4 linked regions of the Homo sapiens genome follow. The main gene of each other region encodes a partner of the protein of the gene in region 4 in a complex. Each region holds a gene or a part of one and is shown on either strand. Other genes may lie near its edges. The genes, in order: GNB1, RAMP1, RAMP3 and CALCRL. A codon is read from its position in the direction of its gene.

Region 1 (7,027 bases), on a different chromosome or scaffold from region 4:
TGCCCCTGACCAGTAAGGCTCTGTAACCACTGGTGGCCTGAGTTATCTTACTGTCTTTCCCCTCCAGGATCCCAACCACTGCTCAGCTGTAGAGGTGGGAACGGGGACTGGCATACAACACCCTGTGAGTATCTGTGAGACAAGTGGTCAACACAGAGAAGTTTCCCATCGGGAGTTTTCTGTATCCCCATCTGTACATGAGGTTGTATAAGGATCAGAAAGGAGAACATCTAATCCAGAAAAGTTTAAAATTTAGCAATCTGAACGGCTAGCAGAGACGGCAGAGGACCCGACCCCACACCTCCACCCAGACTCACGCAAATGGCATTGATGTCAGACTCGTGGCCAGTGAAGGTCTGCCGGCACATGCCTTCTCGCACATCCCAGAGTTTGGCTGAAGCATCACAAGCACCAGAGACGAACAGTCTGGTGTCAGGAGCAAGAGAAAGGCTCATGACATCTCCAGTGTGTCCGGTAAACGTGGTCGTCTGCTGGCCGGTCTCGATGTCCCACAGGGCACTGGAGCAGGAGCGAATGACAAGGGGACATCAGCCTTAACTTCTTGGGTGGCTAGTCATGTGACAGACAATCTGTCCTTCAAACCACCCAGGGCCACAGTGAGCCTCTGCACTGTTACTTTAAAAACGTAAATTGTTTAAAGACAAATTTAAATGTAATACAACTTTGGAAGGGAAACAAAGCAAAGCAAGCAAAATTATACAGAGATGAGCACAGGGCCTGGGCTTCAGAATGACGGGATCGCTACCTCAACTCAAATGCCAGCAAACAGGGAGCTGGGGGCACTTTTCAAGCAGCACCACTGAGGCTGTGCCCCCTCTTTGGTCATGGATGGGCATGGAAGGGGTGGCAGGAAGCTACGTGGAGGCCCTGGATGGCGGAGGGGACGCGACTCTATCTGTGGCTGCTCCCTCTGTGCCCTCCCTTGGCCTCCCCTCCACAGGGTCTCAGAAAAGGCAGGCAGGAGAAGGCCAATGCCAGGTAAACAAATGGCTCACAGCAATTCTGAGGTCCTCCTGCCCTTTCCTGGAATCACAAACAGGAGAGCAGCTGAGTTCTCAGTGATCACACCTGGTATTTTTTTTTTTTTTTTGAGACCGAATTTCACTCTTGTTGCCCAGGCTGGAGTGCAATGGCGCGATCTTGGCTCACCACAACCTCCGCCTCCCGAGTTCAAGCGATTCTCCTGCCTCAGCCTCTCCAGTAGCTGGGATTACAGGCATGCGCCACCATGCCCGGCTAATTTTGTTTGTATTTTTAGTAGAGACGGGGTTTCTCCATATTGGTCAGACTGGTCTCGAACTCCTGACCTCAGGTGATCCGCCCGCCTCGGCCTCCCAAAGTGCTGGGATTACAGGCATGAGCCACCGCGCCCGGCCATACCTGGTATTCTATCACATTTCTGCTTAACAAGCTGTCAAAAGGTGAGACGCTGACAGAGCCCTGCACAGAGCAGAAGCCTGGCTCAGGTGTAAGGACAGCTGTGAGGGCCACACGCCCACCAACATACTATTCTCCTGTGCCTCGACCCATGGAAGGCAACACCAGAGAGCACTGTCCGTTCATGTCAGCCTCAGAGGAAAGCCTGGCTGGGCCTGGCAATGCAAATCCAATCAGCCAATCTCAACAGACACTGCACAGGGAGCCTCCTCTCTAGGGCCTGAGGGACTGACTGCAGAAGGGAAGCAAGATACGTAAAAGAGTCTGAAAAAAATGATTAATGAACAGAAGCACTTTAAAAATATCTTCTAATAAATAAAGTCTTCTCAAGATTGACAATCTAGGTGACAAATCTTTTGTAAATCTATGAAATTTATACAACGAGGACACCTTATAATACCACAGATGCTTTGCTGACAAGTTGGTTAAGGGCCCATGTCTCGGTGAACCCCACCAACTGCGTGACTAGGGGTCTGTGCCCTGGGCTGGGCACAGCTCCTGCCACCAAATCATGCCTCAGAAGACCAGAAAAACCCACATGGCCAGCTGAAGTCTAAAATGACTCTCATAAAATAACTATCTGGACATTTAATTTAGTACTTTGATGCCACAAATGAAAAAATTCTAGCATTTAAGTGGGCTTCCGTTTACCTGTAAGGTGAAAACACTAAAAATGAAGTCTGATGGAATCACTTGAATTGTGACGTCTGTTATTTTTAGTCTGTGCTCATTGTTCACAATGACATGATGCTATCAGAAAGGGACAATCAAAACCCACCCTACTCCCACCTATCATCACCTAAGGAGGTACAAATATATAGAGGGGAAAAAAAAGAAGAGCAGGTACTTTGAGCCTGATTGTAGTTAAAATATCTATGTTGGCCAGGCATGGGGGCTCACACCTGTAATCCCAGCACTTTCAGAGGCTGACGCAGGCAGATCACGAGGTCAACGGATAAGAGACCATCCTGGCCAACGTGGTGAAATCCCGTCTCTACTGAAAATACAAAAATTAGCTGGGTGTGGTGGCGCACACCTGTAGTTCCCAGCTACTCGGGAGGCTGAGAGGGGAGAATTGCTTGAATCTGGGAGGCAGAGGTTGCAATGAGCCGAGATCACGCCACTCCACTCTAGCCTGGAGACAGAGAGAGACTCTATCTCAAAAAAAAAAAAAAAAAGAAAAAAATGTGTATTTTAGTTCTCAGCTGCTGAAAATTAAACTTTGTAAATTTATTAGAAGTATAATGAGGCTAGGCACGGAGGCTCACGCCTGTAATCCCAGCACTTTGGGAGGCCGAGGTGGGCAGGTCACCTGAGGTCAGGAGTTCAGGACCAGCCTGGCCAATGTGGTGAAACCTGGTCTCTACTAAAAATACAAAAATTAGTCAGGCGTGGTGGCGGGCACCTGTAATCCCAGCTATTCAGGAGGATGAGGCAGGAGAATCATTTAAACCCGGCAGGCAGATGTCGCAGAGCCAAGATTGAGCCATTGTACTCCAGCCTGGGTGACAAGAACAAAACTCCATCTCAAAAAAAAAAAAAGTATAATGAATTCACACATTGCTACTATGTGTTTTAAATCTTAAGGCCACTTAAATTACAGATGGCCTAATATTATGTCAAGAACCTTATTTCCTCCATGTTCACAGAGGAATGTGCCAGGGGCTGTGGGTTCTCAAGGCACTGCCTGCCCCGGGTCAGGTACTTACCACGTGGTGTCTCCAGAGCTGGTGACGATCTGATTGTCATCCAGGAATCGGCAGCAGGACAGGTAACCTGGCAAAGAACAGGCCTAAGTGATGAGCTGAATCCAGCAGGCCTTGCACCCAGCCTCATACATAGAGAAACACATTGGCCCGGTGGAAGCTCTACGTCTAAGGTAAGACCAGCACCATGCTAGTGACCTTTTATTCCCATCTGTGCACACAGCAGAAGGTCCACACGCACTGCTGGTGAGGGTGAGAGCCTGGCCAGGCAGGACAGCACGTCCCACAGAGACCCACAGCTCCGTGATGGGGGCAGAAGCAGAAACCACACCCATGAAACATACACATCTTTCATCTGCTTTACTGTTTGACCCATCAAAGGCTGGGGATCCCTCGTCTATTTACTCATTCAGGGCACGCTGACTCCAGTGCCCAGGAAGCAGCCTTAACCAGACAGACACCTCCTGCTCTCCTACAGCCCACGCTCAGCAGGGACAGAGAATGAGAATCACTGAAAGAGGACATCAGAAAGGGAGTGCTAGGGGAAGGAAGAGGACAAAGTAGGGGCCTCACAAGATGGAAGCCAGGAGAGGAGGGAGGACGAGAGTAGACTCAGAGAAGGAGGATCCAAACAGAGGGCCCAGCCAGGGCAGGAGGCGGCGAGGCCACAGGGTCAGGGTGGCAAGGGCCTGCAGGTCATGGAAGGGATAACGAAGGCAACAGGAACGCGGCATGGCAGCAACACTGCAGACACGGGGGTGCTCGTGAATATGTGTGGGTGGGTTTGTTTTCTTGGGGACAGTGGCTGTGACACCCACATCAGCGTGGGCACAATTCTGTGTCTCTGAGTATTCCCACCCACTCCCACTGGGAAGGAAGCATCAGAGGCGAGAGCAGGACACACCAAGATGCCCCGTCCTAAACAACTTCCAAAATGAGGAAAAGCAACAACAAAAAATCAGTCCGCAATATCCACACATGATGACTGGTCTCTACTAAAAATACAAAAATTAAGCGTGGTGGCGGGCACCTGTAATCCCAGCTACTCAGGAGGGTGAGGCAGGAGAATCATTTGAACCCGGCAGTTCAAGTTGTTAATGACTTCTGTTGACCATTATTTCTTTTGTACATTGATCACAGTTCTGGTATTTACTGTGGAACTAAAAGCATAGGGTCAACAAACCAGTTAGTGTGTGCCCAGGATTGGTGACAGACTGGCCCTAATCTGAAGATTCAGGGGTTCCAGTGGCACTGGTGATTCTTGGGATACCTGTTTAGATTTGAGTGTTTACTGAAAAGCCTTCCCCCCAACTACACCCCAGGGAGTCATGCGACACTGCGTGAATCAGCAAACAACAAAAATAAAATGCACCAAAAGAAGAAACCCACTGGGGTTTTAATGTAGAAAGTGTAAGATTACAGAGAAAACAAAGCATTTATTTAACAAACATTATTATCACTATTTTTTGAGACAGAGTCTCGTGCTGTCGCCAGGCTGGAGTGCAGTGATGTGATCTCGGCTCACCGCAACCTCCACCTCCCAGGTCAAGCGATTCTCCTGCCTCAGCCTCCCAAGTAGCTGGGACTACAGGTGCACGCCACCACACACAGCTAATTTTTGTATTTTTAGTAGAGATGGGGTTTCACCATGTTGGTCAGGATGGTCTTGATCTCTTGACCTTGTGATCCACCCACCTCGGCTTCCCAAAGTGCTAGGATTACAGGCGTGAGCCACCATGCCTGGCCAACAAACATTATTAAACTGGCTCTGACAGAAGAAAAATATGCATAGATGACAGAGCTCAAAATATTAACTACGTGCCTACGAAAGTATGCGTGGTCAAATACTTCCTGGAGGCCACACCACAGGGACACTAGGGACCACAAAGGTGAACCCAAGTCCAGCTCAGAGGAGGATAGCCCTGCATACCTGGCGCCCCCTGTAGTGCCCTGCAGCTTGCTGTCGTGCCCCGCAGCTCACTGTCATGCTCCCGGGTCTCCACCCGAGCCCTCCTCCACTGGCTTCCTGGTTCACACTCACCCTTGCTTCAGGGAAGCACCCCCACCCCGTCAGATGCCCATCCAGACCAGGCCACCGAGCCTTGTAGCACTTAGCCTGTTTGAATGTGAGCACAGAAGGGCAGGAAAGAAGAGTCATGGAGACCTCAGCACAGCCTGCATCTCACACAGGGGACCAGGCGGAGGCACTCCCAAGTTTACTGCATGAAAGAATCATGACCTTGGCTGGACGCGGTGGCTCATGACTGTAATCCCAGCACTTGGGGAGGCTGAGGTCAGGAGTTTGAGACCAGCCTGGCCAACATGGTGAAACCCCGTCTCTACTAAAAATATAAAAATTAGCCAGCTGTGGTGGTGGGTGCTGGGTCTGTAATCCCAGCTACTCGAGAGGCTGAGGCAGGAGAATCGCTTGAACCCAGGAGGCAGAGGTTGCAGTGAGCCGAGTTCACAGCGGTGCACTCCAGCCTGGGCAACAGAGTGAGACTCTGCCTCAAAAAAACAAAAAACATGACCTCATAGGTCTCAAAGATGACCTCTCTGTCCCACCCTGTGCAGGCTGTAGTGAAGCTACACAGAATCCATCAGCTTCTTACTCCAAGAACCAGAGACTGAACCCTAAAATCACAGCTCTCAAGCGCTGATAAAATGATGTGGACAAGCATCAGCTGACAGGAACTATGAAGGACAAGGGGAATGACCGAATGTATAAGCCACACATGGCCCCTGACTTACAATTTTGTGACTTTATGATGGTTTGAAAGACACACGCATTTAATAGGAAAACCATGCTCCAAGTACCCATACAACTATTCTGTGTTTTCATTTTCAGGAGTGTCCAATAATTTACATGAGATGTTCAACTTTTTCTTATAAGATATGTATTATGTTAGATGGTTCTGCCCAACCAGAGGCCACTCTAAGTGTCTGTGCATGTTCAGGTTGGGGGGTGAGGTGTGTCCAGTGCGGCTGGAGAGCAGGATGGGTGGTGCAATGCCCAGGGTGCAAGCATACTCCATGAGGCCCAGTCTGTGAACAGAGACCAGGTCTAACCCCTTCTTCCAGGAAAGCCTCGTAGGGCCTTCTGGCCAAGAGGCCACGAGTGGTGAAGACTGCAGACTCTGAAATCAGAAATACCTGGGCTCCACTGTCAGCATGGCAGCTGAGGAAGAGTGAAAATTCCTCTAAGTTCTTTTAGAAGTCCCAGCCTCCCCATGTAACTGGGGAACTGATGGGAGGAGCAGAGCTGTCTGTGCACATAAGAAGTTCTCAGTAAATGGAGACAGTTACTATTTCTGTTATTATTGAATTTGAACAAATTCCCTGGGTATGTGTGGGGGGACACTTCAGGTGAAAACACGCCCCTCCTCCCCTGGTGCGGGGGCCTGTGCTGCCACCCTCTGGAAGCCTGCAGAGGGGCAGGGAAAACAGACCCTGAACAAAAGTGTGCACCCAGTGAGGAGGTGCAAGGGCACAAAGGTGGCACCAAGTGCCTCAAGGAGAGGCTGAAACGCGGCCTGGGGACCTCGCAGTGGTCTGGTCATATAGGCAGTGGGTGTGAAGGGCTGTCCTGTGTCTCATAGGGACCACTGGCTATAGGGACAAGGCTGTTAAAGTCCAGGAGAGAGGGGGTGGCTTGAAGAGAGGCACGGCAGAGAGTGGAAGCGTAGGAGAAAGATGGGCTCCTGGGCATGTGGTGTCAGCAGAGGTGCCTCAAGGATAGAGTGAGTCCAGAGTCTAGAAAGGAGCAGATCACCAGGCTCTGGGAAGAGCACAGCATGGGTGCACACACTGCTCTACCCAGCATGGCTGCCGACCCAAAGACAGCAAAGCCAAGAAGGACACAC
Region 2 (7,066 bases), about 51 Mb from region 4:
TTCCGCTGGAATTCACACTACACATGGCACCTGCATCACACAGTCAGCCAGACGCCAGTTGTAACTGATTAGAAGCTATGAAATGGGCGCATTCTGGGGAAAAAAATCAGGACAGACTTTTCCAACTAGCCTTAACTAAAGATTCCACCTAAAACATTTCCCGGAGCTGAATCTACCATTTGCACTGTGGATATAAATGTTTCTCAACAGCCCTGGCCTCGGACTGGTAATAAGCACGCTGACAGGCATGCGCCTGTGGAAGGAAGACAAAAATCCAGAAATTTCTTCCTGCAGCTAGACACACAGAGAGGGTAAACAAACACACTGAGTTGATTAACAAATAAGAATCCTTCAGATTTGGACTTTGGCATGAGAACTGTGTCCAGATTTAAAACCGCATGGCAATCTGAAGCAGTCACATAGCATTTCCTGTGATGTCCCTGTCATTCCAATTCTACTTGTATTTATATAAAGTCATACATTTCAATTAATGTTGCAGCCATTAAAAAAACCCCTGGCTCCCACGTGACAGCCAAGGAAGGCATGCGTTTCCTAGGACAGGTGACTGAGTTCATGTGTGACAGCACCAGCCAGCATTCCCTGAGTGAAGATGGACTCGAAAAACCAGGGGCTTCTAACGCATCCTTCTTTCCTGGTTAACGAACAGCTTTTCGGTGTCTATACACAAACTTTTCAGAATGCATGTAGAGTCTCCAGTAAACAGAAGAGTACACAGGATGCTCAGAGGGAAAAGAACTATATATGGATCCTAAGTTTTTTTTTTTTTTGAGACGGAGTTTCACTCTTATCACCCAGGCTGGAGTGCAGTGGCATGATCTCAGCTCACTGCAACCTCTGCCTTCTGAGTTCAAGCGATTCTCCTGCCTCAGCCTCCCAAGTAGCCGGGATTATAGGTGCCTGCCACCATGCCTGCCTAATTTTTTTTGTATTTTTAGTAGAGACGGGGTTTCACCATGTTGGCCAGGCTGGTCTTGAATTCCTCACCTCAGGCGATTCACCCACCTCAGCCTCCCAAAGTGCTGGGATTACAGGCGTGAGTCACCATGCCTGGCCGGATTATGAGATTCTTAATAACTACCTAAGACAAATAGCTTGATTGTAAAATTGTCACAGATAAGTTCTTAAACCTGTAAACTAGAGTACTTAAAAAAATTCCACATTGCCATTCTTGGTAGCAAAATCTTCATCACCAAGGAGACCTGGCTAGTGCTACAGCTTGGGAAGGAAACAGCCTGTGCTCAGTAATTCTACTAATTACAGCTGGGCTCCAATGACATTAATTTACTGATAACCTCATAAAGTTTTGTTTGTTCTTCCAAGAGATAACATTAGCCAGGCCACTCAAAATAACGTTAAAATTACAGGACTTTGGACTTTCGGCAGAACATGAATAGTTTTCTCGGTAAACAAGGAAGGTCTTTATATGTGATCGTGACATAGTGTTTTATTTACACAAGCTTTAGAGGGTTCAGCCTCTGGACACTAGTAAAGAACGTTTATTTATTTGGTTATTTATGTAAAAAATATTCCACAACCCAGCTCTCTGCCTTGCTAACAAAGAAATGTTTGTTTCTTAGTAAATGAAAACAGTGAAGGCCATGTCAAGCCAAATGGAGAGAATAAAATTACTGCGAGATTCTGCTTTCCACGTAACTTCAGCCAAAACTCTAAAGTGGCAAGATCCGCTTTCAGATTATATTATATCGGCCTCTGAGGATTCTATGCAGATCTGCCACCCCTTGGAGAGGTTTACAAATAGGGAACAGAAATCCATGGCTCCCAAGAAGCCCTGGCCCCTCTCCTCGCTGGGCCACGAACCACTCCCCCAGCTACAACAGCGCCGGTGGTCCCTGCTTGCCCAGTGCCAGCGCCAAAGAGGTCTTGTGCGGCAGGTGCCTCTGACCAACATCACTGTTTCCGGGGAAAGGCCACACATACCAGAAACAACTGCTCCGGCCTTCCCAGGGACACTGGGTTCTCCCACGCCAGTAACCTATTCACAGTTTCCGTTAAAAGGTAGCTAAATACACGGAATAATGCAATAGCCAAAGCGGTTTAGAAGGGGCTTGAGTTAGCATTTTAGGAACACATTACAGACAAGGGAAGTGAACAGCACCGTTTCTTGCCGAGTGTGTGGCCAGTTCCTGTGGCCATGAGGCTGCCGCTAATCTCCACTTCTCCCTCCAAGTGGAAAGCCAAACGTGTTCCACCACTTCACCAAGGGACCCGTCCTTCTTTAAATTTCTATTAGCCAAAAGTGCCAAGTTAACAAGCAAACCAAAAGAAAAAAGAAAAAAAGCGATGGAAGTGTCCCGAAAAGGGCTGGCCTCATTTCTGCAAAAGACGTGATTTGCAAACAAGCAACTGCTGCAGGCGACAGATTGTCAGTGTTGACTAATTTCCATACAAACCGGCTGTGGTTCTGATTCCCGAACACTGCGTCTTCTGCAAGGTGCCCGTCTGCAGGTTTTGCAACGCGGGACGGCCTAGGGAAGGGAGCCTGCGCTGGCAGTCACCGCGGCGCACAGCCTGAGAAACGAGGTGCGGGGCTGGGGAACCCCGCGTCCTGTTTTTCCTTCTGAAAACTAGTTCTCCAGTGTGCAGGGCTGACTCACCCCACGCTTTCCAGAATGCCCGCTCTCCGACGTCCCCAAAGCCGTCCCTTCCCCGGCGAGAAGCGCAACACCGGTCCGCGCCCTCCGCCTCCCCTGTGCCCTGGGGCCTCCCGCCTGGAACCGGGGCGGCCCGCGTTCAAGGGCAGCGGATCTGTGCGCCCGCGGCGCCCGCCCCCACCCGCTCCCACCCGCTCCCACCCGCTCCCCTCCTCTCCCCTAGAGGACACCGGCTGGCCAGGGGAAGGGAGCTCGGCCGGGACCCCTGGACCTACTCACCCAGGAGCAGCCAGAGGCCGCGCCGCGGGAGGCGGCACAGGGCCCGGGCCATGGTGCACAGCGGTGCCGAGTCGAGTCCGCTCGCCACGCGCCCCGCTGAGGACTGAGCCCGCCGCGGCGCGGGCCCGGAGGAGACGCGCCGGGGGCGGGAGCGGGCGCGGGAGCGGTGGGAGGCGGCGGCCGCGCGGCCCGGCCCACTGCGGCTCCCCGCGTGGGTGCCAGGGCCGGGGGCGCCCAGGGCCGGTAAAACTTTGCAGGGGGGCCGCGCGGGCGTCTCCAGGCCCCTCCCGGGGGGCGGCACACTTGGGGTCCCAGGAAGGCCTCCTGAAATGTTCTCCGAGCAAATAAACACTTTTTAAACTAGGGAGGGTCTCCTAGACGACTCAGCGTGAGGGGCACCTTGGTCTCCACCTGGGGATCTTCCCCTCCTCCTCCTCCGAGGTTCTGGGCGTTCCTGCCTGGTGTTTGCCTTGCAAAAGGCTAAGATCTCCCAGCCTTATCTACCTCTCCGCCCAGGTGCAGGCGCTGGGGAGCGTGGGGGGCAAAACTCGCCACCGCGCCTGGCGAGACCCGTAGTAACCCAAAATGGCGCACACTTACCAGGCCCTGGAATGCTGCTCCAGATCTGCAGGATGAGTGGGTGGGCAGAGGCGGGGACAGCACGGCAGGTGAACAGAAGCCGTGGGGCTGGAGGAACAGGGCTCTTTGGGGGGATTGAGATGGCCTGGGAGTCTTGCTGTTGATGGGTAGGTAGCGAGAGCCTGGCAGGAGGTTGTGAGGGCCTGGCCACAGAGTCTTGAGATGAGGTTTGCTTTGGTGGCACTCTGGCAGCTGCATGGAAAACTGATGGGGGATCTTGGGTACATTCGTTTATGTAAAGTGGTGAGAGGAGGGCGCTCTGGAGATGGGCCGGGGAAGCCTGCGGAGGAGCAGGTTTTGGGAGGCACAGGCCTGGCCTCTCGGCATTACTGGTGGCTGGATTTCACTTGCAGTGGTTCCTTCTTGTATTATCCTGTTCCGAGAACTCTTAGCAACAGTAAATTTATACTTGTGCTAAGGAATGCACCACTGCCCTTGGAGGGGGAAGAATCACCACCCTGGTGCTGCGGCCACAGCTGTCTCTTTTGTGGTGGAAGCTGCAAGCGCACAGCATTGCTGAGTGACCATCGTTTTCTCCTAGGAAAGGGAACAGTCTGTGGCTGAGAGGCTGCTGCCACCTGCAGTAAGCTCAGAGAAGGGGAGACAGCTGACAGCGAGGTCATCCACTGGTTCTTCTAACACAGGCTGGGAGGGCACTCAGGGCCAGCATGCCTACCACCTGTGCAGGGGCCCCAAGTGTTCTGAGAGTGAGGGGTGAGATGGTGGGGGAGGGCACACATTCTCTTGACTTGATTAGCCCTTGTTCTTGAACCCTAGGAGATACACCCCATTGGGTGGCCTGGCATCCCTACTTTCTTCATTTAACAGACATTTGTGTCCCTATGTGCAAGACACTGTTAGATCGACAAGCCCTGCCCTTCAATTGGTGAATCTAGGGGGTGACCTCTAAGACTCTCAATAACATGAGCGCCACAATACAGGAGCCACCCGGAACAAGGGACACTCGCCTCAGCTGCAGTGCAAGTAAGGAGACAAAGGATTCTGGACAAAATGCAGCCCAGGCAGTCCTGAGGGCTGGGTGGAGAGAAGGGCACAAGGGAAATGCAGGCCCGAGCACAGGCCTGGCAGCCAGAGGCCGTGCCATGTGAGAGCAGCACAGCTAGTGGGGAAGGGTGGCTGCCAGCACAGCCCTGGGACAGGGCCACCGTACATCCTGCACTAGGCGATGGCCAGTCATAGTGGGGGAGAAGAACCTGCATCTTTCTGCAGCCATCACTCGCCCTCCATATCCAGGGACTCTGGCTTGAGCCACCCTTTCTACTTGTAGCTTGTGGACTTTGGCTGCATGTTTTTGGTTGGCAACTGGGACTCCTCTTTCATCAGGCTCAGCAGGAGTCTTTCTTCCCAACGTTTTCTCTTTGAAGCTTGACTGCAAGGAGGCAAGGCCAGAGGCCCCTGTCACTGCTGTTTTCTCAACACCCCCTAAAGGATACATTTTCCTAAGAAGACAAAGCCTATTTCTCAAGTTCACATGCTTTAGAAATTCACAGTTCTCTGGAGAATGCTGAAGTAAGGCACACACCTAGAGGCATGTTCTCTCCTAATGATTTTCCTGTCTGTACCTTGGGTCTAAGTAAGACATTCCTTAGCAACTACTATGGGCTTCCCGTCTTCAAAAGTTGTAGTCTGATGTATCTGTATTTCTAATTGGTCATAGGTAGCATGGAAAATCATTCCTCTCCCAGGGTACCTCAATCTAGAGGGGCATTAGGTTAAACAATAGAAGAGATTAGAAAATGGCCAAGTGCTTTACTGCATACACAGTAGGGCTAAAGATACAATCAAAGCCTGGTCAACACTGCTAAAAATTCACTATTAACATAAGATTCCTGCTTCCAGCCGAGATGAAGTTACAGGGACTGGACTCACCTTCCCATCTTAAACTAAAAAACTGGACAAAATGTATGAAACAACAGTTGTCACAGTGGACCACAAGAAGTGCAGGGACCCCTGAGAGCAGGGAAACAAATAAGGTGAGTGCTACAACTGCTCACTGCCTGGAGTTTGCAGACCACAGATGGAGAAAGGAAACCCAAAGAGAGTCTGGGGAAGCCAGGCAGTTAACGCTGGCAGGGCATAGTACCAGAGAGGAAAGAGCTGCGCAAAGAATGCGCTTGCGAGATCACAGAGGGTCCCACTTGAGTCTCAGCCCACACATCTAAGGACACTACCCAAGGGAAAAGAGCCTAAGAGCCCACACCCAGCTGGGAATAGTTCCAGTTCCCACCAACCATAGTGGAAAAATCTTGAAATACACAGAACATCAGAGCATAATTAGAAGGGCAAGTCCCTCTCTGTAGTCAGTAAAAATTACAAAGGCTATTCTGGTGCTGCCTAACAAAACTTAAAAGCAAGAACTAACAGGAGCAAATGATTTCCAAGTAGCTATTACATCCCGTAACTTAAAAACAATAAAAGAACAAAGCATCAGAGAGCCATGAGGCAACTCCAGGTGGCAACTCTAAGGTGTAACTGGAGCCCCTGGAGGAAGATGGGTGGGAAATATGTGAAAAACCACTATGTGGAACATTTTCTATTAACCCATGAGCCAAGAACATCCCCAAACTCCAAGCACAAAAATCATTTAGAAAAATATGTGAAAGCACATCACGATCAAATTGCCTAAAGCCAGTAATAAAGAGAAAACCTTAAAAGCAGCCAGAGAGAGAAGACATTACGTATAGCAGGGGTCCCCCAACCCCACAGGAGTACCAGATCATGGCCTGTTAGGAACCTGGCCTCACAGCAGGAGGTGAGCAGCGGGTGAGCTAGTGAAGCTGAGGTCCGCATCTTGTTAGATCAGCAGTAGCTGATCTAACCCTACCGTGAACTGTTCATGCAAGGGATCTAGGTTGCACTTCTTATGAGAATGATGATCTGAGGTGGAACCGTTTCATCCCTAAACCATCCCCCTCTCACCCCATGGAAAAATTGTCTTCCACAAAACCAGTCCCTGGTGCCAAAAAGGCTAGGGACTGCTGATGTACAAAACACAGGTAAGGGTGACAGAAGAGTTCTCATGGGATATAATGCCACCAGAATACAATGGAACGTTTTTAAGTACTGGAAGGAAAAAAGCATCAAATATTCTACAGATAGTTTTTCAATAACTTGCTGATATGAAGGGGAAGACTCCACTGGTGTCCTCACTATCAGGCCTGCAATTTAAAGGCTGAACTTCAATCATTATCAATAATGAATCAGTGGTTCTGAAGATAACATGCTTATAAGCAATAACAACTTAGTTCTGTGAGTTGTTTAAATCGTGCAATTGCTGGATAAACACTAACAAAAACAGCAGTATCTCAGGGAACTCAGGTTCATCAACTATCAATTTTTCAAGTCCTGCAGGAAGTCCCACTGTTAAAACCAACACACTTGCAAGTAGCTGAGAACAGAAGTTGCCTATCTCCCCTATTCCCCCAAGAAACAAAACAAACAAAAAACAAGAAGTGAAAAATAAATTCTATATAAAACTGTCCTCAGCATTACTT
Region 3 (7,027 bases), on a different chromosome or scaffold from region 4:
CTGTTGGCTCTCCTGGGCCTCAGCCACAATGCAGCACCTGAGACATGCCCAGGCATTAGAGACACCTCAACAGCTAGGTCCATGGACAAACCCTCATCTTCCCTGACCTGCTTCTCCCACAGGGCCTCAGATTCAGTAGCCTGCTGTCCACCCCAACCCCCCGCCAGCTGATCCAGGAGCTGGGGAGCCGTCTAACAACACCCTGCAACAGCCTTCACCTTCAGAAGTTCCCAGCATCTATGTGTGTGATGAGAATCACATGCGGTAACCTCTGTGCCTCCAAAGTCATTCCACTGAACTGCTACCCAGGAATGCCACCCCCCAACAACCATCCCCAGGGCTGAGATGAGCCAGACAGACCCTGGAGAAGACCCTCTGTGGACAGCGAGTCTACAGGGCAAGAGGAGTGATGTCTAGCCCCAGAACCGTCCCAAGAGGAGGTGAGGCAGGGCTGAAAGCCCCTGCTGTTCCCAAACCCCACTCCCAGCCAAAGCTAGGCCACATGGAGAAGCCCACGGAGCAGAGGTAATCCCAGAAGACAGCATGGACAGTGGCTTCAGGCTCAGGTTGCAGAGCCAACATGGCAGGGCCTCTCCAACTCCAGCTCAGCCACTCACCATCTTTGTGGTATGGGCCATGTCATTTATCCTCCCTGGACCTCAGTTTCCTCATCTGTAAGTGGGTTTAATAACACTTATCCTATCAGGTGGTTGAGAGAACCAAATGAGTTGAGGTCCATGTGCCCCAGCAAGTGCCTGGCACAGAGGAGGTCATGGGGTGAGCCCACCCCAGCTGTTAGGTTTGGGGCAGAGCTGAGCACAGCACCCATCTCTGTGGATCCACAAAATCTGCATTTTTGTCACATATCTAGAGAGGTCCACATTCAGTGCTTCTCTAGAAAACCGGGAACTACTTATGATTTATTCATCCCCTGGATAATCTGGGGCCTCTCCACTCCTCCTTCAGTCAGGCTCCCCAGAGCACTCTCCCTAAAAAAGATGCACCACAACCCAGGATGGGAAGGAGAGGAGCCCAGCAGGCTGGAAGCCGGGCAAACCCCCCAGTCAGACTCCCTCTCCCCCCACCCACCTCTGGGGTGTTTGCCCACCTTCCTTTATGTTTCACCACCTGAGTGTGTTCCCAGGCAATATAGTGTTGCATTTGGAAATCCCATAGCAATGCTCCTTAACTGGGTACAGAAGGAGCCCATTGCTGCTATTGGAGGGAGGTTCCCAGGAGAGGACACGCTCTGGTTGCCCCGAGGGGCAATGAGACTCCTCCCCAGGGAAGGCCACAGGCAGGCCATGGGCGAGTTTGGGGAATAGGGTCTTCCCAGCCATGACTCGACTCCTGATGGGGTCGTCATGTGGACCAGTCCTATTGAGGGGAGCAAGCCACCTCTCCTCTAAGCTCACCAAGGCCCACCCTGCTTCAGTGGGGACCAAAGCAGAATGAACATTCAGGGGAAAGAAAGGAGTGTCCTTCATTCTTGACTGAGCTGGGCTGCAGGGCATGGGCAGGCAGTCACCATGTCAGGTAAGCATCAAGTGCCCTCCACCTGGGCCAGGCTGCCTCCACCCAGGGTGTACTGCCACGCTGGGGCACCGCCCTCCCTGGGGCTTCCCTCTCCTGCCTTGGCTCCGCTCCCCAAATCTCATAGCTTCTTTTGTCGTGGTTTGCTCCACACCTTGGCGCACAGCCGCCAGAGCTTGAGAAAGGTATGTGGGAATCAGATGCTGGAGGTGCCACACGTCTGACAGTATTTTCGTTTCTCCCTAATTAGTGGACAAATTGGCGGGAAATAGCACACTAGCTGAGAAATCACAGTCCGAAATTCTCAGGTCCTTGCATCCCACAGTCCTCGGTTTCCAGGGCTGCGGTGGGGGAGCCTGAAGGCCTCTGATCCCCTCATCTCCAACCTAGAGCTCATTTTTTTCCTCCTTCTGGATAGGTGTAGAAGTTTTCCTTTGTTTCCACAGCTCTGATATTCCAGGGTCCATGTGGGACATTTTCCTCCCTCGTGCTAGTACCGGGCAAGCCCTCACCGGCTGCAAGCTCATGCCCTCAGCCCCTGGCAAGGGCCCTTTATCCTTCCATTCTCCTGTTCTCTTTCTAGAATTCCTACTATCTTGGTGTTACGCCTGGACTGACCACTGACCTCCTGATCATCTTCTCTGTCTCTCTCTCCTATTCCTGGGAGATTTCCTCAACATCTCCCTTCCAACCTTTCTATTCCATTTCACTTCTATTGCATCTTCCATTTCTAAACCTCTTTCTTTGTTCTCATTCATCACATGAGAGATAGTTGTTGCCCTCTGAAGATATCAGTCGTGACGTTTGCAGTTTTCTTCTTGGTGCATGGCCCCCGGGTTTGCTTGGTTCCATCTCTCTGGTCTCTGTCCTTCAGGGTCAGAGCCTTAGGTCAGATTTCCAGGGACCCTGCTTGGAAGTGACTCGTGACTGGGAGTGGGGACTGAGAGCTGATGAGACACTGGGACCCTGCAGAAGAGCTTGTCCCCAGAGCTTCCAGGGGTTGGGGGGGTCACTGCTTCTAGGTCCTTCCTCTTGGCTGGTCTCACTCCTCAGAAAGGACAGCTCCAATCCTACCCTAGACCACCCTCCTGGACCCAGTGGCAAAAGATAATGCGTATCAGCCGCTCTCTCCAGCCTCCCTCTCTGGGACACTGTGCCACGTTCTCAATTACATGGGAAGGCCCAGAAACCCTGGTGTCACCAGCTCCAAGAATACACCTCCAGTGTCCAGCTGGGGTGGAGGAGGGCTCTGGACACCTCACTGCTTCTCAGCTACTCTTGCCACTCTCTTGGGAGCTGGTGCTGCCGGCCGGGTCGTGGGAGGGCTCCGCAATGTCAACCTGGCTGTTCCCAGCTCCCCTTTTCCAGCATCAGGTCTGACTTCACCAAGGGCACTCAGTCAGTGGCTCTTGCCCACTCACTCACTGGCTCCTAAATGCCCATCGGGTTGCCTCCACTCCTGTCCTCCCAATCCACGGCTGGACATCTCTATTTAGTCTCTTTACCAAGGCTTTAGCGGGTTACAGAGAGGAGCAAGACCAGAAGCTACGAAGCTATGACCTCCTCTTCCCTGACTCCACCCCCACCAGTGGGTCCATTCCAGGCCTGTGTCCAGGCTCACTGAGGACCAGGAGGAGCCTGCAAAACCCCTTCCTGAATCCCAGCACCCCTTCCCAGCAGACTCAGAATTCCATTCCACTTGGTTCAGCAAGCAGTTCCCCCACAGAGTGGGGCTGCAGATGTGACAGCCTCAAGAAGCCCCCATCTGCTGGGCCACTAGAATGGCCAGGGCCGGGGAGGCTTCCTGGGGCAGGGCCATGGTCAGTGTCTCTACGGAAGACAGGGGCTGGGGTGCTAACATGCAAAAGCATGAGGCCAGCACATTTAGGGTCTGGCAGCAGCCACCAGGGGGTGGCACAAGACTGCAAAGCCAGAGGTGGAGTGGGGTGGGGCAGAGGACTGTGAGGCCATGAGCAATTTCCAAGGAGGTAAGGAGATGAAAAGCTTGGGAAGCTTCTAGAACAAGGGGACCTCCCTTCACTATGAGGTGTTGTCCACAATTACACCTGATATAAACCATTGGAACCCAATTCCTCTAAGTCCTCTGACCACTGAGGACAGACCCAGCCATGACTGGTGCTGTAAGAAAGACACATGACAATGTCCACCCAGCTCCAGCTGTAAGGAGAGGTGGAGCACCCTCCAGGCAAGGCATCCCCCAGGCCAGGGCACCCCCTGGGGTAGGGCAGCACCCACCCCTGGGAGAGTGCACCCCCCAGGCCAGGCCACCCGCAAACTGGACACTCCCCGGGCAGGGCACCCTCCAGGCAGAGCACCTCCCAGACAGGGCACCCCCAGGCCAGGGAACCCCCGAACTGGACACTCCCAGGGCAGGGCACTAATCTGGATCAGGAGGAAAAGCAGGCATGGGGAGGATTCCTAAATAACAGAGGAGAGGGAGAAGCAGAGGCACAGTGTAGAATTGCTAGAACATCAGAGTGAGGATGCGGAATGGGGGGTAGGAAGCTGGGAACCCGCTGTGGGTGTGGGGAGCACAAATGCCGTGGGCAGGGGCACGGCATGGGCGGGGCCGTGAGTGATGTGCCAGGGGGATGTGGGTGGGGTGGCCAGAGCCAAGAGCAGAGTGTGAATAGGAGCGTGGTTGGGGCCCTGGGCAAAGTGTGGGGCAGCACATGAAAGGGCTGTGGGTGGCCTACGGTGGGTTGTGGGTGAGGCATGGGTGAGGCCTTGGGTAGAGTGCGGTCAGGCTGTGGTCAGGCAGTGGTTGGGCAGTGGGCAGCGCTGTGGTCAGAGCAAATCCCACGCCCAGCAGTGGCACTCACACGATGAACTCGGACAGGTTGCACCACTTCCAGACGTCCACCTTGCCCATCATGTCTGCGAAAGCCTTCCCACACAGGGGCAGCCTCTCCAACATGCCTGTCTCGTTGCAGCCGCCTGCTCTGGGACACCCACCTGGAGAGGGGACAGCCATAAGAATTCCACTACAGTTCACACTGGGGATGCCAGGACAGGGGAGGCCCAAGGGGCCATAACTTGAGTACTCACTAGCAAGGCTCCGTTTGCAAGCCTGAGACCGTTCCAGCGGAGTCCTTCACCCTCCACCCTGACCTACCTGTCAGTGCAGAAAGGAGGCTCCACACAGGGACCTGTCCCCAAGACAGGACAAGTCCACCTTTTCACTTCACCGCCTCACAGGCAGTGGCACAGGCAGGGATCAGGCAGTGAGACCCTGGGCCAAACTCCTTGGGAGGTGGTGAGAGGGTCTCAGGCAGATCAGGGCTGGCAAAGAGGCTCCAGTTCCAGCTTAGGAGTCCCAGGGGCCTGGGAACATCCTGAGGACTCTAAGACCTGGGGACCATCCCACTGCCTGCAGGGGCGGCAGAGGAGGGCTCCAGGCCAGTAAAGACCAACCCCTCCCGGTCAAAGACCCCCTCCAATTCTGGGAAACCAGGGGCTGAGGCCACTGCAGGGACTCATGTTCCCAGCAATGGGAATGAGTCCTTTGGACTTTCTCAGGGTCTGACACAAGCTGCTTGTCCCAGGATTTCCCCACTGCCCTTCCCAACCTCTGCCCACCAAAACATCCCCTCCCCTTCCTCCTCATGCCTTTGCTCCACACATTTCCCCATGGGGAACATCCTCCCTCCCACTGAGCAATGCCCCCTGTCCTTCAGGGCCTGTCTCCACGGTCATCCCATTTCCAGACGACAGGACCTCCCTGCTCCTAAACTTCCCTCACCTGACCTCTGCTTTGGTGCTCATCATATACTCAAGAGAGACCCCAGGCATATGTGTCTCGGGTGTGTGTGTGTGTGTGCACGCACAGCCCTGCTGTCTGTGTCTTGGTGTGTGTGTGTGTGTGTGTGTGTGTGTAGGTACACAGCCCTGCCATCTATATCTTAGTGCATATGTGTATGCATACATGAGCATGTGTGTACACAGCCCTGTCATCTGTGTTCCGGCGGCTGGTGCTGGGCTAGAGGAAATACCATGAAGAAGCAGATAAGAAAATGGTTCCAGATTGACATGGGACAGACCTGGCTCACACCCACACTTCACTGGTTACCAGCTCAACCTCAGTTTCCCCATCCGCAAGATGAGGGATACAGGCCCCACCTCACAAGGAGGTTGAGCTGGCTAACTTAGTCTGAAATGCTCAGTGCCACCTCCAGGAACGTATCATTCATTCATTCCCTCAATAAGTCTTGGCTGAATGATAGAGAAAGCAGTGAGCATTTCAGAGTCTGATCTTCTTCCATGTGTGGCTCACCCTGGGCACTGAGCAAGTGCTGAATAAGTCACTTTAATATGGAAATGGCAGGTTTAGACAGGACCACTTTCTGGTGCAGGGACCTGCTCCACCAGAACACAGCGCCCCAGACACTCCTCAAGAGTCATAGCCTGCTTAATGCTAACATTAGGGAAGACCCTGGAAGCCCCTTGGTTGAACAAGCGTCTGATGCCAGCAAAAGGGAGTGGCTTGTCTAAGGCCAAAGGAAGGCTGGAGGGGTCCAGATCCCAGGGTTAAGGGAACTGTCATGCTCAGCCCACCCCCACCTGCAGCAGAACACCTGGAGCACATACAGAGGACAGGTGTTAGCTGGAACCCCACAGAGGAGAACACAAAAGGGCTTGCCAGCTGTTCAGGGTCGTGGGTTCCCAGACTCAAGGCACCTTCTTCCCTTCGTGACTGCCCAAACCTATACCTCAGAATCCAGGCTGACAGCACTGAGAAGGGCCCCTGGGGGTCACAGCTGGTAAAGTTGGACAGAGGACTTGCAGGTCCCAGCAGGTGGTCTGAGAAGCCTGTGTAGGCACTCACATCTCCCCTTCTGTCCATGCAAGCTTCCCCAGGACCCAGGGCATCTTGAGGCCCCAGAGAACCCTGGAGATGGGAAGCACACAGGCTGTGGCTCAGTGGTCAGCCTGCTGCCATGTGTAAGCAGATGGCAAGGACACAGGCTGGGTGAAGTCACCACCATGGCCCCTGGACACAGGGTCAGTGACTGGCTCTCCCAGAACAGGTGTTTCAGGGCCTTCTGGCCACTCTGCATGGTTTCCAGCACCTGGAATGTCCCTGACCCCCACGTTCGCTTGTCTCATCAGCACAGCTGCAGGCCTGGATTCTCTGAAAGGCCACACATCCCACTTAGGGCCCCAACCCCTGAGTGAGCCTCTGGGGTGCTCACCTCTCTTCACAGAAAGGCCATGTGCTCATTCTGTGTCTGTCCCATCCCTGCATGTAGCACAGGTCCCCCACATGGTCCCACAGGGTCTGCACATGGAGATGGTGGCTCAGTACCCACTGTCAACCCAGTGAAATTTATCCAAAGATTTAGCAAAACATCCTGGACCACCGCTATCATGTGTTGCGGACTGTGTTGGATCCTTGGACAAGGGGAGAGGGAGAGGGTCTGGTTCCTGTCTTCAGGACCTGCCATCTGGGTTCCAGGGGGCAAGAGGAAGACAC
Region 4 (5,816 bases):
CCAACAAAAGAAAAAAATGTACTTAATAAATAATTGTTACCTTTTATGCATCAAAGGACACAATTAAGAAAGGGACAAGACAATTCACAGAATGGGAGAAAGTATTTGCAAATTATCTGAAAAGAGACCTATACATATATATTTGCAGATGTGAGTGTGTGAGACTATATATATATACATATTGATATATATATATATCAATAATAAAAAGACAACCAAATTAATAATGGACCAATAATCTGAATAAATATTCCTCCAAAAAAGATTACACATGGCCAATAGATGCTTGACATCTTTAACCATCAGAGAAATGAAAATTAAACTACCAGGTACCATTTCACATCCATTAGGATGTCTAAAATAAAAAAGACAGGTAATAACAAGTGTTGAGAAAAATGGAGAATTCAGAACCCTTCATACACTGCTGGTGGGAATGTAAAATGATCTGGCTGTTTTGCAAATGTCCTGAAAAGAAATGAAAACTTTTTTACAAACAAAAACTTGCAAACAAATGTTTATAGGTATATTATTTATAATAACCAAAAGGTAAAAGCAAAACAAACATATCCATCAACAGACAAATGAATAAATAAAATGTGGTATGTTCACCCAATGGAATAAAAGGAAACATTGATACATGCCAAAACATGAATGAATTTTAAAAACATAAGTGAAATCATTTAGTCACAAAAGGTCACATACTATATGATTACAATCATATGAAAGTCTAGAATAGGGAAATCTGTTGAGACAGAATGTAAATTAGTGATGTTTATAGCTGAAATGAAAGTAGAGATAGAGGGATAGAGAAGTGATGGCTAAAGGATACACTGTTTCTTCTCAAGGTCATAAAAATGTAATGAAATTGGTGATGGTAGCGTGTCTCTATGGATGTATTAAAATATACTCTACTAATATACTAAAAACTGCTTTGAATATGAAGTATTATATGATATGTCAAGTATATCTCAATGAAGCTGTTAAAAAGTGCACTATGGTTCTAGATTTGTAAAACCAACTTGAGGAGGTCTATATTGTAATTAACACTCTCATGTACCTATCTCAACAATAGGCCAAACCTTATTAAACTAGCAATATTTTTAATCAAGAATATTCTTTCTTTGAGATTAGTATAATCACAAGGAGGAGAGATTATAAGAAAAAAACACAAGTGTTTTAAATGGGCATTTTCTCCAGAAAACAGAAAATGATGTACATTATTATTGATCATAAAAATAAAAATTAGTTATTAAGTGGAATGCAACTGATTATTGCCCTAAGGATAGAGTGGTTTTGCACTTATTTATAAATTTATTTCAACATTTTTAATATTCTCATATAGTGTGATATTTTGAATTCTCCTTTGAATTTTTGTAACATCTTACTTGTTCCTTCATTAATTAATGAGTTAAACGAAATCTTTGAAACATTTTCATTTTATATTTGTGTGAGAGCCATGAATATGCCCTCTTTAAAAATTACCTTTAAATACTTATTTTTCTTTCTAATATTTAAACAAAACTACAAAATGAAATATAGTAGATAAAGGAGATGAATTTCTGAACATTTTCTTATTTTGAGACATCCTTTTTCTTCTTTCAGCATAAGAAGGAGTTTGCATCCATTGTAGTATAGTTGGATTTTTTTAGTTTGAAAAACAAATCATGACTTTTTCTTAATTGGTTTATTGAATTCATTTACTGGTTTACTGAAGACTTTAAAGAGGGCAAAAGATATATTTTGTTAAGAGATTTGTTAATTTTGAGAAGTATCCCATTGATTACTGTAAGAATTATGTTTATAAATTAGATTATTTGGCACTGTAGTAAATATCAGTGAAAATAAACTTTAACTCATAACTTTAATATTTTCATACAATCAAAAAATAGAGATATACTCTAGGCATAACATAAATTGTTATAATTGATCAGAATATCTTGAATATATTTTTACAGATAACTAGTGGTTTCTACTAGCAGATTAAAACCAAGAGAAAATTAAAAGTAAGTTCACATTTAAAAAAAATTATAAGCAATAAATACAGCACTACAGCCACCACTAATTCTATATACATTGGATTACATTTAAACAAACACTGCATTCCAGAATGAATATTTTATGAATAAATGCATTGGAAATTAACTTTAGGAAATAAAATGACAAATTAGAATTTAGAAAATTAAAATATGACTTTCACAAGTAATCACAGTAAAATGCAGATCTACATTTTAAAAGCTAGAAATTTCCCCAAATTTATTTTTTTGACAGCAAAGAAGTTTGCTTTAAAAAAAGTGTCAGATTTACTTTGCTTTATGAGTATGATACAAAGATATTAAGTAGCATTTAGCTTTTGAGAAATCTAACATTTAAAACTATTCTAAAAATATATGGGTACAAAACTAACAGTGATTAATCATGAATGACTGCTACGCCTCAAGACTCTACAACAGACAAACCCTGGCTATAAAATAAATCTGATCTAGAATTAATATTATAAAAGCACAACAAAAATACTTGAAAATTACATGTTTATTTTAATATAATCTCTGATCATTCAACATTTTTTACTGTCACTTCTACTGTCAAGATGGTTGAGAGTTGACAGTTTGTCTAGAAGAAGGCTGATATATGTCAACATGGTCAGCAAAGGATTTAAATATGGGTCTTTGAATAATAAATAGCTAATAATTGAGTTTATTAAAATGAATTTTTGTATAATTTAGGCAGTTGAAGGTCTAGAACAGCCTGCGTTCCTTTCTATGGCAGCTTGCTATGAAATTCATGTTTCAAACAAAACAATACTTTTTCATGCATAGATAAATTATAAATGTACTGACCAGACCATTCTATATGTTAATTCTTACGAATTTAGATAATTTGTCTTAGCAATTTGAAATAAGTTCTGAACTCACCATCTATTGACATATTGACAGCTTAAGAAACAACTTATGATGAGTAATTTGTTTCATCCATTTTAATCAGATTGACACACTTAAAAAACAGATACCCATGACTTTTCCCAAAATTGACTTTTACTAATTGAAGTCATTCTTGTTCTTTAGAGATTTCAGCGGAAAATAACATTAGAGAAACTGAATCCCATGCAAATTTCACTTTAATTCATTAGCAAGGTTTTCTTCTATCTTTATTTAATAAAGTCTGACAATAATTCAGTAAGATCTGACAATAATTTTTTCTCAATGATATATTCAAGTATTTCCCTAATTTGTATTATATACAGTAGCTCTATTAAAATATTAAAGCATTGTATATGGTATATATAGTATCCTTCTAGTTTTTTATATTTCTTGAATAGCCTGGGACATTTCCAAAGCTATATATCTTCACATAGTAAAAGTCAGTAAAGTAATATTTTAATGGGGTAAAATCTATAAAAGTAGCAGATTGGTATTTATCACAGTAGTTGTTTAAAATTTCTGGATTAGAATGTGAGTTCATTGTCAAAATGAAAAAAGAAATATGTCAAACACACCTATTATTAAGGTATGAGTTATCAAAACAAATATATTCAATAAAATAGTGACCTTGTGTTTTTAAAATAAATATATCTTATGATAGATGTTTCTGTTCTCTTAGTTCTCAAACAGACTTCTGATGCTGGCATCTGGTTGTCTTTAAAATATTTACCAAATATAGCATTCCAGACTCTATTTTATTTAAAAAATCAGCCCAGATACAGTATCAGATATTAACATACACACATTGTTGCATTATATATTTGCTTTAAAAATTACATAGGTTGTATGTATTTGATTTGAGACTATAAAATAAAATAATGGAGTATTTACAAGCTCATTTTTCACAATTTCTTTTTACAAAATTCCAAGAAAATAAGAAATCCTTCATTGATTTTCTTTATATAAAATGATTGCTAATTTGTTTATACAGTAGAAATGGAAGGGACAAAATTTATATTTACAGCTAGGAATTCCCTCCCACTGTTTGGTAAGACAGGAAGAGGTTGACAAGGTGTTTTGTAGCATCAACTAAGATGTTTTCCTAATGATATAGAAGTAGGATTGCATATTATACATCCTGTTCATCCAGTTTCCACAATGGATATGCCACAAGATATAACTGATGTGTCAGCAAATGAGTAGATCATAACAATTGTACTCAGTTGCTTTTCATAGAGAAAAGAAAGCCAGCAGGGATAATTCACTTCTGGTATTGTCCATTTGAGAGGGTAGTTACAAAAAGGACTACGGCACTCTGGGCAAAAAAAAAGTCAACTGCCCCAATCAAGATGGGATAAAGAGTTTTAAAACTAAAAGCTAATTTTCCCTTCATGTTTATAGACCTTAGCTAGGTCTCTTGGGGCAATAAGGGTAGAATCATGCCCAACATGTATGTTTAGTTTTACAGCCATTTGTTTGTGAATTCATGCAATGGTGTGCTGGAACTGGCTTACACCAGCTCAGAAAAGTTGATTGTGCTTTTCTCCAATTCCACACTTGGTGATGTCAGGTTAGTAGCGTCACATCAGGCATAGTGGGAGTATTTACTGACAAACATTACAAACCAGGATTTCTTTTTTCCCACATAGAGCTGGATGTTACACTCTTATCAACACACTACTAATTTCATGTGAAGGCTCTTCTTTATGACATTCAAAAAGTCATTTAATATTGAAGTCTTCTGGCTACAGAGTCATGGGTCCAAGTCCTTGAGTTAGGAGAAGCACAAAACAGTGAGACAACCATCCTTCTATTTTCAATTATATAAATTTTCTGGTTTTAAGAGAACATTTTCAATATCATGGATGCTTTTTCCATTTAAGTGTTCACTAGGACAGTCATGACTATAACCTGGACCATCACTGATTGTTGACACTGTGTAAGACGCACTACGAAGAGCTTCTGAGTTGGAAAAGCTGTTTCCAAATTGGATTTTGTATTGATTCCAGTTTCTTCTCAGAATTGCTTGAACCTATCAATCAAAAGGAAAACAGAAAGAACAAGAACAACCCATTAATTGAAATGAAGACACTGTTTTTGAAGCACAATTAAATAGGTCTTGGAGAAGAGCTTTTTTAAAAAAAGTTATGTTAATCAGTGAATAATATAGCTTCATTTTCTTAATTTAAAAAATTAAGTGTACCATCTTCACATTAGGAAATGTATTACAATTACATTGTACTTTACATTCCATTAATATTTTTCATGGCATGTTTTGTCTTCAAAGCTTTTATAATTCATATGTATTTATTGTTGCCAAACAAATAGGTAATCTGGACCCCCATTTACAAGATTTCATGTGCAACATTGAGTTTTATATTAATGTCTTTATTAATAGAATGAGAAGACAATTCGTGACAGGATAAGCGAAAGATACACAAAAGAAAAGAAGTTAGGATACGAAGAATACAAATCAGCAGCAGCAGCAGCAGGGCAGTAGCAGCAACCTTTGTTTCTGAGTGACTCCCATATGCCAGAAATTGTGCTACATTCTAAAAAAGGGAGCATGATATTTGTCTTCATGGAGCTTACTACATAGAGGAAAGAAAAGTGTTGAACAAATAATTATAAATCTGGTGAATATTGTGAAAAATAAATTTAGGAATGTAACCACTCCATTTTTATATATTTGAATCCTCTTCTGCTGAATAAATTTGCAGTTTAATGACTTCCTTCCCCTCTGTTTGAAGCTAGAGATCAGGGGTAGGTGGGTCCTATACAGTAAAATATTGGTCATAATGGAATGTAAGGCACAAGAGTGAATTTTCTTCATTGTCAGTCAATGGGCACAAATGAGAACATTTAAATACATCTCTAGCTCAAGTACGTTGAGGACTT

The links.
Region 1: the proteins of CALCRL (region 4) and GNB1 are in contact, whole or in part, in a cryo-EM structure (PDB 6UVA), measured with the Homo sapiens proteins. Residues at the interface, in NP_001258680.1 of Homo sapiens: Lys167, Ser168, Ile394, Arg397, Asn398, Gln401; in NP_001269468.1 of Homo sapiens: Arg52, Phe292, Ala309, His311, Asp312.
Region 2: the proteins of CALCRL (region 4) and RAMP1 are in contact, whole or in part, in a cryo-EM structure (PDB 6E3Y), measured with the Homo sapiens proteins. Residues at the interface, in NP_001258680.1 of Homo sapiens: Asn39, Met42, Thr43, Gln45, Tyr46, Glu47, Tyr49, Gln50, Lys51, Ile52, Met53, Gln54, Thr68, Trp69, Asp70, Gly71, Arg113, Arg119, Thr120, Phe228, Leu231, Ile235, Thr239, Val243, Ala244, Gln250, Trp254, Tyr255, Leu258, Phe262; in NP_005846.1 of Homo sapiens: Trp59, Ile63, Tyr66, Arg67, Ala70, Phe83, Trp84, Pro85, Asp90, Phe93, Leu94, His97, Gly98, Phe101, Arg102, Cys104, Pro105, Ile106, Ser107, Gly108, Arg109, Ala110, Val111, Arg112, Asp113, Pro114, Ile118, Leu119, Phe122, Ile123.
Region 3: the proteins of CALCRL (region 4) and RAMP3 are in contact, whole or in part, in a cryo-EM structure (PDB 6UVA), measured with the Homo sapiens proteins. Residues at the interface, in NP_001258680.1 of Homo sapiens: Arg38, Asn39, Met42, Thr43, Gln45, Tyr46, Glu47, Tyr49, Gln50, Met53, Trp69, Asp70, Ser117, Arg119, Thr120, Phe228, Leu231, Ile235, His238, Thr239, Val243, Val245, Lys249, Gln250, His251, Trp254, Tyr255, Phe257, Leu258, Phe262; in NP_005847.1 of Homo sapiens: Trp56 (codon at 4,402), Cys57 (codon at 4,399), Leu59 (codon at 4,393), Phe62 (codon at 4,384), Ile63 (codon at 4,381), Tyr66, Glu67, Thr70, Cys82, Tyr83, Pro85, Asn86, Pro87, Leu88, Gln90, Ile93, Thr94, His97, Arg98, Cys104, Thr105, Val106, Asp107, Arg108, His110, Leu111, Glu112, Asp113, Pro114, Val118.

What each region holds. Positions count from the first base shown.
Region 1 is NC_000001.11:1,790,078-1,797,104, forward strand, and holds part of GNB1 (guanine nucleotide-binding protein G(I)/G(S)/G(T) subunit beta-1), read right to left. Parts: intron 3,235-7,027; coding exon 3,168-3,234; intron 520-3,167; coding exon 318-519; intron 1-317. UniProt on the Homo sapiens protein: Guanine nucleotide-binding proteins (G proteins) are involved as a modulator or transducer in various transmembrane signaling systems.
Region 2 is NC_000002.12:237,855,574-237,862,639, reverse strand, and holds the start of RAMP1 (receptor activity-modifying protein 1 isoform 1 precursor), read right to left. Parts: upstream 3,018-7,066; 5' UTR 2,965-3,017; coding exon 2,913-2,964; intron 2,744-2,912; exon of another isoform or gene 2,433-2,743; intron 1-2,432. UniProt on the Homo sapiens protein: Accessory protein that interacts with and modulates the function of G-protein coupled receptors including calcitonin gene-related peptide type 1 receptor (CALCRL) and calcitonin receptor (CALCR). Required for the transport of CALCRL to the plasma membrane.
Region 3 is NC_000007.14:45,174,791-45,181,817, reverse strand, and holds part of RAMP3 (receptor activity-modifying protein 3 precursor), read right to left. Parts: intron 4,510-7,027; coding exon 4,377-4,509; intron 1-4,376. UniProt on the Homo sapiens protein: Accessory protein that interacts with and modulates the function of G-protein coupled receptors including calcitonin gene-related peptide type 1 receptor (CALCRL), calcitonin receptor (CALCR) and G-protein coupled estrogen receptor 1 (GPER1).
Region 4 is NC_000002.12:187,341,450-187,347,265, forward strand, and holds the end of CALCRL (calcitonin gene-related peptide type 1 receptor precursor), read right to left. Parts: intron 4,951-5,816; coding exon 4,735-4,950; 3' UTR 515-4,734; downstream 1-514. UniProt on the Homo sapiens protein: G protein-coupled receptor which specificity is determined by its interaction with receptor-activity-modifying proteins (RAMPs). Together with RAMP1, form the receptor complex for calcitonin-gene-related peptides CALCA/CGRP1 and CALCB/CGRP2.